Linked DNA regions of Homo sapiens: regions 2 and 3 are each reported to be linked to region 1. The links are microRNA targets in miRTarBase. Many come from high-throughput screens and were not tested one by one. Region 1 holds a microRNA gene; each other region holds the end of a gene's coding sequence.
What was found. Region 1 holds the annotated microRNA hsa-miR-6821-5p (GUGCGUGGUGGCUCGAGGCGGGG, at 1,421-1,443, shown strand). A microRNA usually pairs through its seed, bases 2 to 8, with sites in the 3' UTR of a target mRNA and lowers its output. Matches are read on the target gene's strand: a 7mer-m8 pairs with bases 2 to 8, a 7mer-A1 pairs with bases 2 to 7 and ends in A, and an 8mer does both.

Region 2: the mRNA of RAET1E is a reported target of hsa-miR-6821-5p. The part of its 3' UTR that is shown has no 7-base or 8-base seed match.
Region 3: the mRNA of KIF3A is a reported target of hsa-miR-6821-5p. The part of its 3' UTR that is shown has no 7-base or 8-base seed match.

Annotation. Positions count from the first base shown.
Region 1 is chr22:49,961,446-49,965,599 of GRCh38, forward strand. It overlaps MIR6821 (microRNA 6821), which reads left to right and starts at 1,421; the gene lies at 1,421-1,494. It overlaps PIM3 (Pim-3 proto-oncogene, serine/threonine kinase), which reads left to right. Exons shown (of 6, transcript NM_001001852.4): 4 at 1-366; 5 at 1,244-1,420; 6 at 1,495-2,627. The coding sequence ends at 1,682. RefSeq lists silencers at 490-539, 670-1,189 and an enhancer at 3,763-4,154.
Region 2 is chr6:149,884,838-149,888,991 of GRCh38, reverse strand. RAET1E (retinoic acid early transcript 1E) reads left to right here. Exons shown (of 6, transcript NM_001394057.1): 6 at 325-4,154. The coding sequence ends at 494. RAET1E-LRP11 (RAET1E-LRP11 readthrough) reads left to right here. Exons shown (of 15, transcript NR_182438.1): 5 at 325-453. The region is part of intron 1 of RAET1E-AS1 (RAET1E antisense RNA 1); the gene reads right to left. Among named protein-coding and RNA genes, the nearest start is that of RAET1E-LRP11, 9.2 kb to the left of the region's middle.
Region 3 is chr5:132,692,959-132,697,112 of GRCh38, reverse strand. KIF3A (kinesin family member 3A) reads left to right here. Exons shown (of 19, transcript NM_001300791.2): 19 at 431-4,154. The coding sequence ends at 479. Among named protein-coding and RNA genes, the nearest start is that of IL4, 21 kb to the right of the region's middle.

The sequences.
Region 1 (4,154 bases):
GCGCGACCGTGCCCCTGGAGGTGGTGCTGCTGCGCAAGGTGGGCGCGGCGGGCGGCGCGCGCGGCGTCATCCGCCTGCTGGACTGGTTCGAGCGGCCCGACGGCTTCCTGCTGGTGCTGGAGCGGCCCGAGCCGGCGCAGGACCTCTTCGACTTTATCACGGAGCGCGGCGCCCTGGACGAGCCGCTGGCGCGCCGCTTCTTCGCGCAGGTGCTGGCCGCCGTGCGCCACTGCCACAGCTGCGGGGTCGTGCACCGCGACATTAAGGACGAAAATCTGCTTGTGGACCTGCGCTCCGGAGAGCTCAAGCTCATCGACTTCGGTTCGGGTGCGCTGCTCAAGGACACGGTCTACACCGACTTCGACGGTGAGCGCGGGCGCGGGGCAGGGAACGTTCCGGGGGCCTTGCCGGCGGGTTAACGCCTGCAGGGGCGGCACATGGAGGGGCTGATGACTGTTGGGCGGCCGCGCGCCCTGGGTCTGCTCTCGTGGGGAGCAGAGGCCCACGCGCTACCCTGGGGAGGGCTGAGCGAGGGATCAAGAGCGGGATCGTGCTGGGTGGGGGCTAGGGGCGCGCTCAATATTGCTTCCTCCATCGCGTTGGGGGGTACGGGGCCTCTTGCCCCGGTGTGGGAGGCGCGTGACATCCTTCCGGCCCGAGAGACCCCCGGCTGGGGGCGGTAGCGGAGGAGTCTCCGTGCGTGACGCAGGGCGCAGCCGGGCTGGGTCTGCGCCGGGAGCCTGGAGGCCCCCGCGGCGCGGTTGGAGTGGCGGGGCCTCCCCTGCGTGGGGGCGGGAGCTGCGTGCGTGCGGAGCGCGGGGGCGCGGCGGCAGAAATCCCCGCATTGCGGAGCTTGGGGAAGCCGGGGCTCCCCGCCCGCCCCTCCCTCCTCCCTCCCTCTCTCCCCTCCCCCCGTTCCCGCAGGCAGGCGCGCCGGGCGGTAAGGGACCCGCGCTGTCCCCCCCCCACCCAGGTAGCCTCACAGCGCATCTGTTTGTTGTGAAAGCCGAGCTCTTACTCATGTGACCTGCTCCTCCCCCGCGGCCGGCGGAGGGGGACGGCCGGCCCCTCCCCCAGCCCCCCCATCGCCTGCCGGGGTTTTTCCAGGGTGATGACGAGCAGGATTTTGAGGCCTGGCTCTGCTTCCTGTTACTGAGGCCAGGGAGTTAACCAGCAGGGACCTCGCCGTCTGTTGAGCGGCTCTGCCTCTGTGGTGGGCGTGCTAAGCCCTGTGTCCCCTTAGGCACCCGAGTGTACAGCCCCCCGGAGTGGATCCGCTACCACCGCTACCACGGGCGCTCGGCCACCGTGTGGTCGCTGGGCGTGCTTCTCTACGATATGGTGTGTGGGGACATCCCCTTCGAGCAGGACGAGGAGATCCTCCGAGGCCGCCTGCTCTTCCGGAGGAGGGTCTCTCCAGGTGCGTGGTGGCTCGAGGCGGGGGTGGGGGCCTCGCCCTGCTTGGGCCCTCCCTGACCTCTCCGCTCCGCACAGAGTGCCAGCAGCTGATCCGGTGGTGCCTGTCCCTGCGGCCCTCAGAGCGGCCGTCGCTGGATCAGATTGCGGCCCATCCCTGGATGCTGGGGGCTGACGGGGGCGTCCCGGAGAGCTGTGACCTGCGGCTGTGCACCCTCGACCCTGATGACGTGGCCAGCACCACGTCCAGCAGCGAGAGCTTGTGAGGAGCTGCACCTGACTGGGAGCTAGGGGACCACCTGCCTTGGCCAGACCTGGGACGCCCCCAGACCCTGACTTTCTCCTGCGTGGGCCGTCTCCTCCTGCGGAAGCAGTGACCTCTGACCCCTGGTGACCTTCGCTTTGAGTGCCTTTTGAACGCTGGTCCCGCGGGACTTGGTTTTCTCAAGCTCTGTCTGTCCAAAGACGCTCCGGTCGAGGTCCCGCCTGCCCTGGGTGGATACTTGAACCCCAGACGCCCCTCTGTGCTGCTGTGTCCGGAGGCGGCCTTCCCATCTGCCTGCCCACCCGGAGCTCTTTCCGCCGGCGCAGGGTCCCAAGCCCACCTCCCGCCCTCAGTCCTGCGGTGTGCGTCTGGGCACGTCCTGCACACACAATGCAAGTCCTGGCCTCCGCGCCCGCCCGCCCACGCGAGCCGTACCCGCCGCCAACTCTGTTATTTATGGTGTGACCCCCTGGAGGTGCCCTCGGCCCACCGGGGCTATTTATTGTTTAATTTATTTGTTGAGGTTATTTCCTCTGAGCAGTCTGCCTCTCCCAAGCCCCAGGGGACAGTGGGGAGGCAGGGGAGGGGGTGGCTGTGGTCCAGGGACCCCAGGCCCTGATTCCTGTGCCTGGCGTCTGTCCCGGCCCCGCCTGTCAGAAGATGAACATGTATAGTGGCTAACTTAAGGGGAGTGGGTGACCCTGACACTTCCAGGCACTGTGCCCAGGGTTTGGGTTTTAAATTATTGACTTTGTACAGTCTGCTTGTGGGCTCTGAAAGCTGGGGTGGGGCCAGAGCCTGAGCGTTTAATTTATTCAGTACCTGTGTTTGTGTGAATGCGGTGTGTGCAGGCATCGCAGATGGGGGTTCTTTCAGTTCAAAAGTGAGATGTCTGGAGATCATATTTTTTTATACAGGTATTTCAATTAAAATGTTTTTGTACATAGTGGATAATCCTGTATTTATGGGGCTGGGCATCCTGGGGGAAGAGAGGGGCTCTGAGGAAGGGCTTTGGCTGCTGGGTGACCTGACAAGTTTCCCGTGGGGCTGGTAGTTTTGCCCACGGGGGAAACGGGGGAGGCCCAGCTGGGTGCCAGCCTCCCCAGTGCCACAGGCTACTTCATGTGGCTTGTGGCCCACCGCACTACCCCGTGCTGCACCCAGGGAGAAGAGCAGCTGCCTCCTGGGGTGCCTCTGGGAGGTGGAGGCAGGGAGCCAGGCCCTGAGGATGCAGCAACCCACACTAGTCAGGAGGTCATTCCTCGGTGGTCCCAGGAGGATCTCTGCAGCCCCCACCCAGGGAGGCCTTGCCAGTGGAAATGGCCATACTTGCATCCTGGCTTGGTGGAAACAGAGACGTGCGGGGGGGTGGGGGAGGGAGTCCATGCTGCCTCAGAGGGTGGCTGGGGGTTTTGAAGGACAGGGAGGAGTTTGCCAGGCACATGGGGTGGGAGTGTGTTCCGGGCAGTGCCAAGGACGTGCAGAGGACATGAGGGTGGGGTTTGGTGGAGGGTATCGGGGTGTTCAGTCAGTTATAGTTAGACCCTGGCCTGGCGGGTGTGTGGTGAGAGAGTGGGGTATGAACCAGGTTCGGGTGTGTCAATGGGCCTGGCCACAATGTTCCTGGTGGGTAGAGGAGGCCTGGGTGGAGGGTCCCAGTGAGACTGCTCCCCCACCCCCACCCCAGGGGCCTTCTGCTCAACTGCCCACCCTGTGCTGGGCTGTGGGGTGCCCCATGTTGGCAGTGGACCTGCACCTGGGGCATCACCCAGTCTGCCAAGCGCACCTACTCGGCTCTCTGGCTCCTGGAGCCCTGTCTGCCCCCTGCCTCCCATCTGCCCCTCCGAATAAGAGTCCCTGATAAACAGCCCGGGGCAGGCAGCACCATACTGGACAGAAGACTGTCCCAGGCCCGAGGCCAGAGGCTGTGGCAGAGGCGGGAAGTTTGGGAAAGAGAAACAGGAGGAGACGAAAGTCACCCTTCCCCTGGAGAGCAGGCAGAGAGGGCTCGGGTGGGGGGCTCCCGCCTCAGGTTGTGACTGTTCAGGACATCAGTGGGTGTTTGTGGCCTCTGCTGTGGAGATCCAGGAGCACCTGGAGGGCAGCTGCTCAGTTAGGCAGGTCTCTCGGGGCCCTCATCTCACCCTACAGCCTCAGGCCAGCAGGGGAGATGAGGAGGTGCCGGGAAGGACAAGCCACCGGTTCCCATAGACCTGGCCCAACCAGCGTGCCCTGAGTCCAGTCTGGTCCAGTGAGGCTTTTCCCATTACCCCACCCCCCACTGCCAAAATGGGACCCTCGGGCAGCAGCCATTGCGGCCCACCTGCTCCTGGGCCAACTGCCATGGGCATTCCCCAGCCCCCAGCCATGGGCATCCCCAGCCCCGGCTTCAGCCAGGCAAAGGCCCTCCACGCAGATTGCTTTTGGGAAACTGAAGGCCAGAGAGGCAGGAACCTTGGGCAGATGTCAGAAT
Region 2 (4,154 bases), not on the chromosome of region 1:
CCACCTTCCCCACACAGAATTAAGCACCACCCATTGTGTCATCCTCCAAACAGTTCTAACCACAGTAATCGTGAAACTGTGTGGTAATCAGATGGATATTTGCTACCTCTCTCAGTAGAAATCTGAGCTCCATAAGGACAAGGCACAACCCCTATTCATCTTCATGGCCCAGGGCCTGGTAGAGTGGCTGTCACATGAGCCAGTGATTATGTGGGGCACCATGTGTTCCTGGGGAAAGCAGGGGCTAAGGAAAGCATATTTTTATGCTTTTTTTTTTTATGTGACAGGGCTTGTGCTTTTTTTTCTTTTTTTTTTTTTTTTTAGTGTCACCAGTAAATGCTTCAGATATCCACTGGTCTTCTTCTAGTCTACCAGATAGATGGATCATCCTGGGGGCATTCATCCTGTTAGTTTTAATGGGAATTGTTCTCATCTGTGTCTGGTGGCAAAATGGTGAGTGGCAGGCTGGTCTCTGGCCCTTGAGGACGTCTTAGTCTGGTAAGGACTCAAGAGAGGTGAATCATGGGTCTCATCCAAGCCCCCGCTCCCTGATCCATCTCTCTCCACAGAAATGGTGCACTGCCTTAGTCTTGAGCCCCCACACTACACAGCAGGGCTGGCAGCACAATGTGCAGTGAGAGGAGGGATGAAGCAATCATCTCCTCTCGAGGAGGGGCAAGGTCAAAGATCTGGAACGCCTGCCTGGGGTGTTGTCTCCTTGCCATCCGGCCCAGGTTTCATCCAGCTCTTTGACGGAAAGTTTGTTTGCTGTCTGCGTTTACCGTGATTTAGCTCAGCAGGTCCCATCCCCTTTTCCCGTTCACCCTGAGAAGACTTGCTGGTGGCGCTTGTGGCTGCAGCATTTACTCCCAGATAACATACAAGATGTGGTATAAGAAATCCTTTCACCACCCTCTAAACATTACAGTGCCGAACTACATCCTACATTTTTAGTAGAGATGGGGTTTCTCCATGTTGGTCAGGCTCGTCTTGAACTCCCGACCTCAGGTGATGCTCCCGCCTCGGCCTCCCAAAGCGCTGGGATTACAGGGGGAGCCAACACACCTGGCTGAGAGAACTATTATATGCCAGACACATTGCCAGACATCTTCTGCTCTTTGGTCCTGTTTCTCCGCCACTGCTCTGACATGAAGAATTCATTTCTTTCTTCCATTGCTGTCTTTGTCCTCATAGTGTCTTCTCTAAATTGACCCAGGCAGACCTCAACATTTTCAAGTACAGCAATTTGGAAAAGTTAAGTAGAGCTCTAGGGTTCAAGTCACAGTTCCTGGGGCTCTCTCTGTGGAGTTCAAAGTTAGGATTCCCTCTAATGAGAAAAATAGGCTACTCCATCTGACTCACTGAGGATCAATGTTTCTGATGTAAGAAATGATTCTACCCTTTTCATTGCTTAAACGAATACCATGACTCAGATATGTGTCTGTTTTGCAGGGGCCCTGACATGAAAAGTGAGTTTGCCAAGATCGGTGTCACAACAGGCTTGGCAAGATATGGCTTGAGTCAGATAAGGGCCACTGGTCCAGAAGGGGCTCGTGTGGTGGGTGGTGTGATGGCAGCAGGAACCCAGGGAGTGAATATGCTGAGATAGGAAGGGGTCCCACCCACAGAGCTGCAGGCAAAGGGGTCCCACCTTAATCCCTGGTGGAAGGTGACTGAGAAGGACTTAACTGCCCCAACCAAGCAGGCTGGGACTTCAGTGCCATTGACAATAGTGAAGGGGATTGGTGAGTAGGAAGGGAGGCAAAAGAACAGTTTTAGAAGCTGGGTCTGAACAGTAGGGATTTAAAGGAGGTGGGACCTCCATAGACACCTGGGAGTTCCTGGCCTCTAGCCTCATCCTGGTAACCGAGTCGGCTGCTGAAGGGCTTCCTGTCTGGGCAGGAGCAGGCAGGGATCAAGCGCCGGTGGAGGTCAGTGCCCACAGCTGAGCTGAACAGAAGTGGGAGGCAGAGTGGGCCTGGGGAAAGGTGTATTACAATTCAAGGGGAAAAAAATATATCTGCCACCCTTTGGGGAGGGCCTCCCCACTGTGTCGCATGGATTTCTCTGTCACGGGGAAGAGCAGCACCCAGGGAAAAAGAGCTTTGTGTGCCCATGACACATTCCTATTTTGTTGTCTCTGGCATTTCTGGGCATTGTTTCTGCTGAAGTGACAGAAGAGAGAAAAAGCTGATCAAAGCTAAATGACAGAGCAAAGGGGTTGACAGGGAGTGTCTTTTCAAATACACAGGGACATTCACCAAGAAGGGCCATTTTTGGATCATAAAATAAATCTCATCTGGGCGTGATAGCTCACTCCTGTAATCCCAGCACTTTGGGAGGCCAAGTTGGGTGGATCATTTGAGGTCAGGAGTTCGAGACCAGCCTGGCCAACATGGCGAAACCCTGTCTCTACTAAAAATACAAAAATTAGCCGGGTGTGGTGGCATGGGCCTGTAATCCCAGCTACTCGGGAGGCTGAGACAGGAGAATCGCTTGAACTCAGGAGGCGGAGTTTGCAGTGAGCTGATATTGCGCCATTGCACTCCAGCCTGGGTGACAGAGTGAGATTCCATCTCAATAAATAAATAAATAAATAAATCTCAACATATGTAAAGGGTTAAAATCATGCGAAGCATCTTGTCCAAGCACAATGGAAATAAACTAGAAATCAACAGCAGGAAGCTATCTGGAAAAATCCTCAAATGTTTGGATATCAAATAATATGCTTCCAAATAACTATATATCAAATTAAAAAGTACAAGGAAAACTAGAAAGTATTTTGAAATGAATGAAAATGATAATACAAAATATCAAAATCTATCAGACACAGATAAGAAAATGTCTAGAGGCATCCACACTGAACTTTTTGATCTCTGAATCACCGTGCATCATTGCTGCCAAATTTTTTGCTCATGCTCATCTCTGCCTGGAATTTTCTTTCTTACCTGACCGAATTCCAGACAGCTATCCAAGTCCAGTTTAACTGTCACCTCCTCTAAGAAGTCACCATTCTTCCTGGATAGAATTAACTACCCCCACTCGTAGCTCAGAAACTCTGACCACAGAAAAATTATCACATTGTTTTATGATTGGGTGTATGTCAGTAAATTGATGCGCTTACTTGAGGACATTACTTTTGTAACCTGAGAATCTATCATGGCTGCTATATAGTAGACGCTCAGGACATGTGAGGACTTGAGTGGCAGCGGAGGTAAGGGTCATCTCCTGGGTATGGAGCTTGGACAAGAACCTGCACTCTTCTGTTCCATTTCACCTCAACCATCCATGTCCCCAACCACATCTCCACCATCCTACCTGTACCAAGTGCTAATCCTTTGAATCATGTCAGTGACTATCTTCAGCTCAATCCCAATCACAGGTCAGGAGGGAGGGCATCAGGTATACTGTGAGCAAAACAGAGTATGAGATGGGGCCAACTGGCCTCTGGATTAGGGGCAGGGCTTGTCCTGTATGAGGACAGGGAGAAATGAGGTTGCTAAGTCTCCCCAAGACCCCTGCCAAATCTCACCATAGACATAAGATGAGGTGAATTTCATTTATCGCCTGGGCATTCACGACCTGAGAGGCTTAGCTCTGGGTCAAGTTGAGCCCTCTCTGTCCCTGGCCAACAGGAGAAAGGCAAAGGCTGAATGAGTCTCGGGGACTGTCTCTGCTTTGCAAGTGGGCCCTGAGGTGAACAGGGACCTTTCCAAATTAATGCATCCACAGCGGTTTGGCAAAGTCGGGCTTTAAACCAGGGTCACTCTCCAGGGGTTGCCTATGTGATGGGTGGTCTGATGGACAGAAACACAGAGGGTGGGCAAGACACAATTTTGGGTGGGGCAGCAGCTTGATGATCTGACCATCTGACCATGGGAAAGTATATCACATGCCAAAGGTTGAGGGGTCTCTAGGTTTAATTCCTAGGAGGACATAATGAAGAAGGCTGCCTGGGCTCCAACAAAGCAGGCTGGAGGCAGGGCCACACAGACCGTGGGAGAGGGGATTGTGAGCAGAAGGGAAGGCTGAAAGTGAACCCTAGACACTCTGTGAGGACAGCAAGGACTAGAAGGTGGGATTCCTTTGACACCTGGGTTTCTGGTTCACCCCTGACACAGGAATCCTGGCAAATGGCGTCGTGCCAAGCCCCA
Region 3 (4,154 bases), not on the chromosome of region 1:
TAGCATTTCCATAAGTCCCTACATATGCATCAGGTATTGCCTGAGATGATTTGTTTCTGATTTCCTCTGAATCCACTTGCACCTTTTGAGTACCTCAGAAGAGATAATCAGGAAGTTCAAATCTGGCAAGCATGCAGCTCACTTGGCCTGGCCACATGACCTAGTCTAGTCTTGGAAATTATCACCTGTCCTATCCTTCACTATCTGGCATAATGGGGTGGGCTGCCATCCTCTTGCATTTACTTTAAGTTAGCTTCCCGTAGCCTGAAAAGGCGAGCATTAATTGAACACTTACCATGGTCAAACGTGTCAAATTTTGGCTTGTTTCCAGACTATACAGGCCACCCCATAGTTTCTATATAATGTTAAATGTTTGCATTTCAGTCTTTTAGGAAAGCATTCATGATTGCTTTTTTTCTTCTCCAAACAGAAAGCGTTCTGCAAAGCCTGAAACTGTAATTGACTCTTTACTGCAGTAAATGTTACAGACTTAAAGTCACAATAAAAATTAGTGATATTCTCATGCCTGGACAAAATCTTTAATTAAAACAGTGAAGACTTCTCTATAATTTCAATTAATGGAAGTTGTAGATCAATGAATAAGACTGGAAATAATAATTTGCTTAAGAACTTTTAGTCTACATATATTAATATAACATTAAAATTGTACAACTGGTGATTGTTCAAATTGTTGTACTACTACTCTTCAATTGTACTGTGCAGGGAAGTTGGGGGAACAGTTCATACTATAGAGAGTTACAGTTTAGATGTATGTGTAAATCGATTAGCTATTTATCCAACTACTGTATATTTAGGTAACTAGAATTTCAAAATAGAAAAAAAAAAACTGTGTCCTGTTTTGCACATAGAAAGAAGCAGATCAGATTGTCCTATGTTGCGCTGTTATATATGAATGTTTGGACTGTACATCTAAAGAATGATTCCGTCCTAACACCCACCCAGCCTGTTTGAACACATTCTAATTGTCTAACATTTGTTGCATTTTAAGTATGAGATGACTGATCTTATGAATGTTTTGTAGAAAATGTTATAATTTAACAGTCTTTGCGAGTATACATGTTTTTTAACAAGTTGAAAATGTTTCATCTGAACCTTTCCTAACTTTTTTTTGCCAGTTTGAGTTCAAATCAAATACACCTTAAGTTCTGGTTTCATGTTCTCTTGAAACATTGAATTGTACGTAAATATAAAGGATCTACTGTTGCGGAAAATTAAGAAGCTAAATACTGCTCAGTTATCTTTGCCTGCGTGTATATTTTTAAAAATTCACTCTGAAGTGTTATGGATGCTTTTCTTTGAGTTCTAAATTTTGGTGGGAATTACTTTATGTCTCCCAGTTAAGAAGAGTCTCCATTTTCCAGAAAATACAGCTAAGCAAGAAAAATATCTTTTAAATACTTTGCCTTTAAAACACTTTTTTATTTTGTTTTTCTATTTTAAAAATAAAATATTATTTTCTGAATTTCTTCTATTGGGTAATCCAGTTAGACCATATTCCTCTACAAATAAAAACTATGTTGATTTCATAGTAAAGTAAGTTGTAATAGAGATAATTATTTTTTTCTGTTGTTAGCTGCTTATGAAACTTTTATTGTATTTTTTTAAAGTTATGCTACTCCTGGCCGGGCATGGTGGCTCACGCCTGTAATCCCAGCACTTTGGGAGGCCGAGGCACGTGGATCACTTGATGTCAGGAGTTCGAGACCAGCCTGGCTAACATGGTGAAACCCTGTCTCCAGTACAAATACAATAATTAGCTGGGTGTGGTGGCGCACACCTGTAATCCCAGCTACTTGGGAGGCTGAGGCAGGAGAATCACTTGAACCTGGGAGGCGGAGGTTGCAGTGAGCTGAGATGGCATCACTGCACTCCAGCCTGGGTGACAGGGTGACACTCCACCTCAAAAAATAAAAATAAAATAAAAATAAAGTTATGCTACTCCTAAACCACTTAATATATGTTTTGTGGTTTTCAAAATTATGTAATCAGCCCTGAAACACATTGGTTGAAAATATTTTGAGACTTTATAAGTTAGTATTTATTAAATTAATATTATTTTAATAAGTTTTGTTAAATCCTAGTTTAAATGACAAAGCTGTGTATAGAGTAGGGGTGAGTGAAGGTGGAGTACTCTTGAGGTGGCGATAAAAATGTACCCATAAATTTAAAGTCCATTCTGTAATTGGAATACTGAATGTCCTGTGTGTGGTGAACATTTTCTAGGTGATTAGAATTGCATTTCACTGGCTGCATTTGTTTGTGGTATGTAAGATAGCTAGAAATTTATTACTTAACTCTGTGGGGCATTGTTTAGATACTGTGAAGAGTTGAGGTAAATATGTGTCTTGTAAAAGCTTTGTGTGATCAGAATATTTTGGTAATTATAAAATGTTTTTGATGATACACATTTAACTCTGTTAGTAATTACTCTAAAGAAATCTTAATTTTACCAGTTTAAAAAAAACGCTTCTTTTTAAAAGTTCATGTTTCTAACCTTTAACAATTCAGTTAATAGGAAAGGAGTAACTTTTAAATCAAGCTTTAAAACATGGAAATTTAAGCCAGTATGTTAGATATTTTTTCTATCCCACCCTACCATGATAATAAAAATAAATCTATAAAAAGTCAAAATAAAAAGCCGATCTATAAAAAGTCAATTGAGAAGTTCTAAAAGCAGGCTACTATAGCAGGGGTGTTTGTTTTTTGTTTGGAGACGGAGTCTGGCTCTATTACCTAGGCTGGAGTGCAGTGGGACAATCTCGGCTCACTGTAACCTCTGTCTCTTCAGCCTCCTGAGTTGCTGGAACTACAGCTGTATGCCATCATGCTCGGCTAATTTTTGTATTTTTTTGTAGAGATGGGGTTTTGCCATGTTGCCCGGGCCTGTCTTGAACTCCTAGAGCTTAAGTGATCCACCCGCCTCAGGCTCCCGAAGTGCTGGGATTACAGGCATGATTATAGGCCTGAGCCACCACACCCCGCCTACTATAGCAGTTTTTTAAAAAAAGCATTATGTTAAAACTGATTATACCAGATGGACATTAAATATCCATCTCAGAAATACCAAAATTTGATACATAAGCCTGGCCTGAATATCTTTTTTTTTTTTTTGAGACGGAGTCTTACTCTGTCGCCCAGGCTGGAGTGCAGTGGCGCGATCTCGGCTCACTGCAACCTCTGCCTCCTGGGTTCAAGGGATTCTCCTGCCTCAGCCTCTTGAGTAGCTGGGATTACAGGTTTGCGCCACCACACCCAGCTAATTTTTGTATTTTTTTTTTAGTAGAGACCGGGTTTCACCATGTTGGCCAGGCTGGTCTCACCTGACTTTGTGATCCGCCCGCCTCAGCCTCCCAAAGTGCTGGGATTACAGGTGTGAGCCACCACGCCTGGCCTCAAGCCTGGTCTGAATATCTATATGCAAATATGGGACACTGACTTCAGAGCTATTCATTTAGCTCCAGTCATAGCAATTCTGTAGTTTCCTCACATTTACTGTGTCTTTGTCCACAAATGAAATATGTTGTAAGGTCAGTGTTAATTTCGTGAGACGATATAGATGAACACACTTGCTCATTTTTTGAAATAAATATGCAGATTTAAAATGAGTGGCACATATATATAAATAGGTTATTGAATGGGTATTCTCTTTTCCCTTTAATTTAAAAAGTGATATTTATTTATTAAAAGGAGCATTGGTAGAATTATTGGTTTATAGTATCTTCTTTAATAATCCTTACAATTACATATACTAATAGGATGTTAAAATTATCATCGTGTTTCCTATTTGTGTTTAGATTCTTATAAAGCATGAGATGAGTAATCAAGGGAAGGGTCGCATCTCCATGTTTGCCCCATGAATAGAATCCATTTGACAAGCCATTTCATTTCCTTTCTGGAGAAAGGGAGTTGTTTTTTTTTTCTTTTTACAGCAAAAATTTAAGGTTTTATTGGGGGAGGGGGTGGTGCTACTTCCTCTGTAACATGTTTTTAAAACTATGATTATGGTTTTTGGTTGTTTTTTGTTTTGTTTGTTTCCTTTTAGTCTGTTTTTAATATCCTTCCCCTTAACTCTTAAGGAAAGTCTTCTTTCCTACAGGGCTGTGAATTAAGGAATGGGTAGCGTTTACATTTAA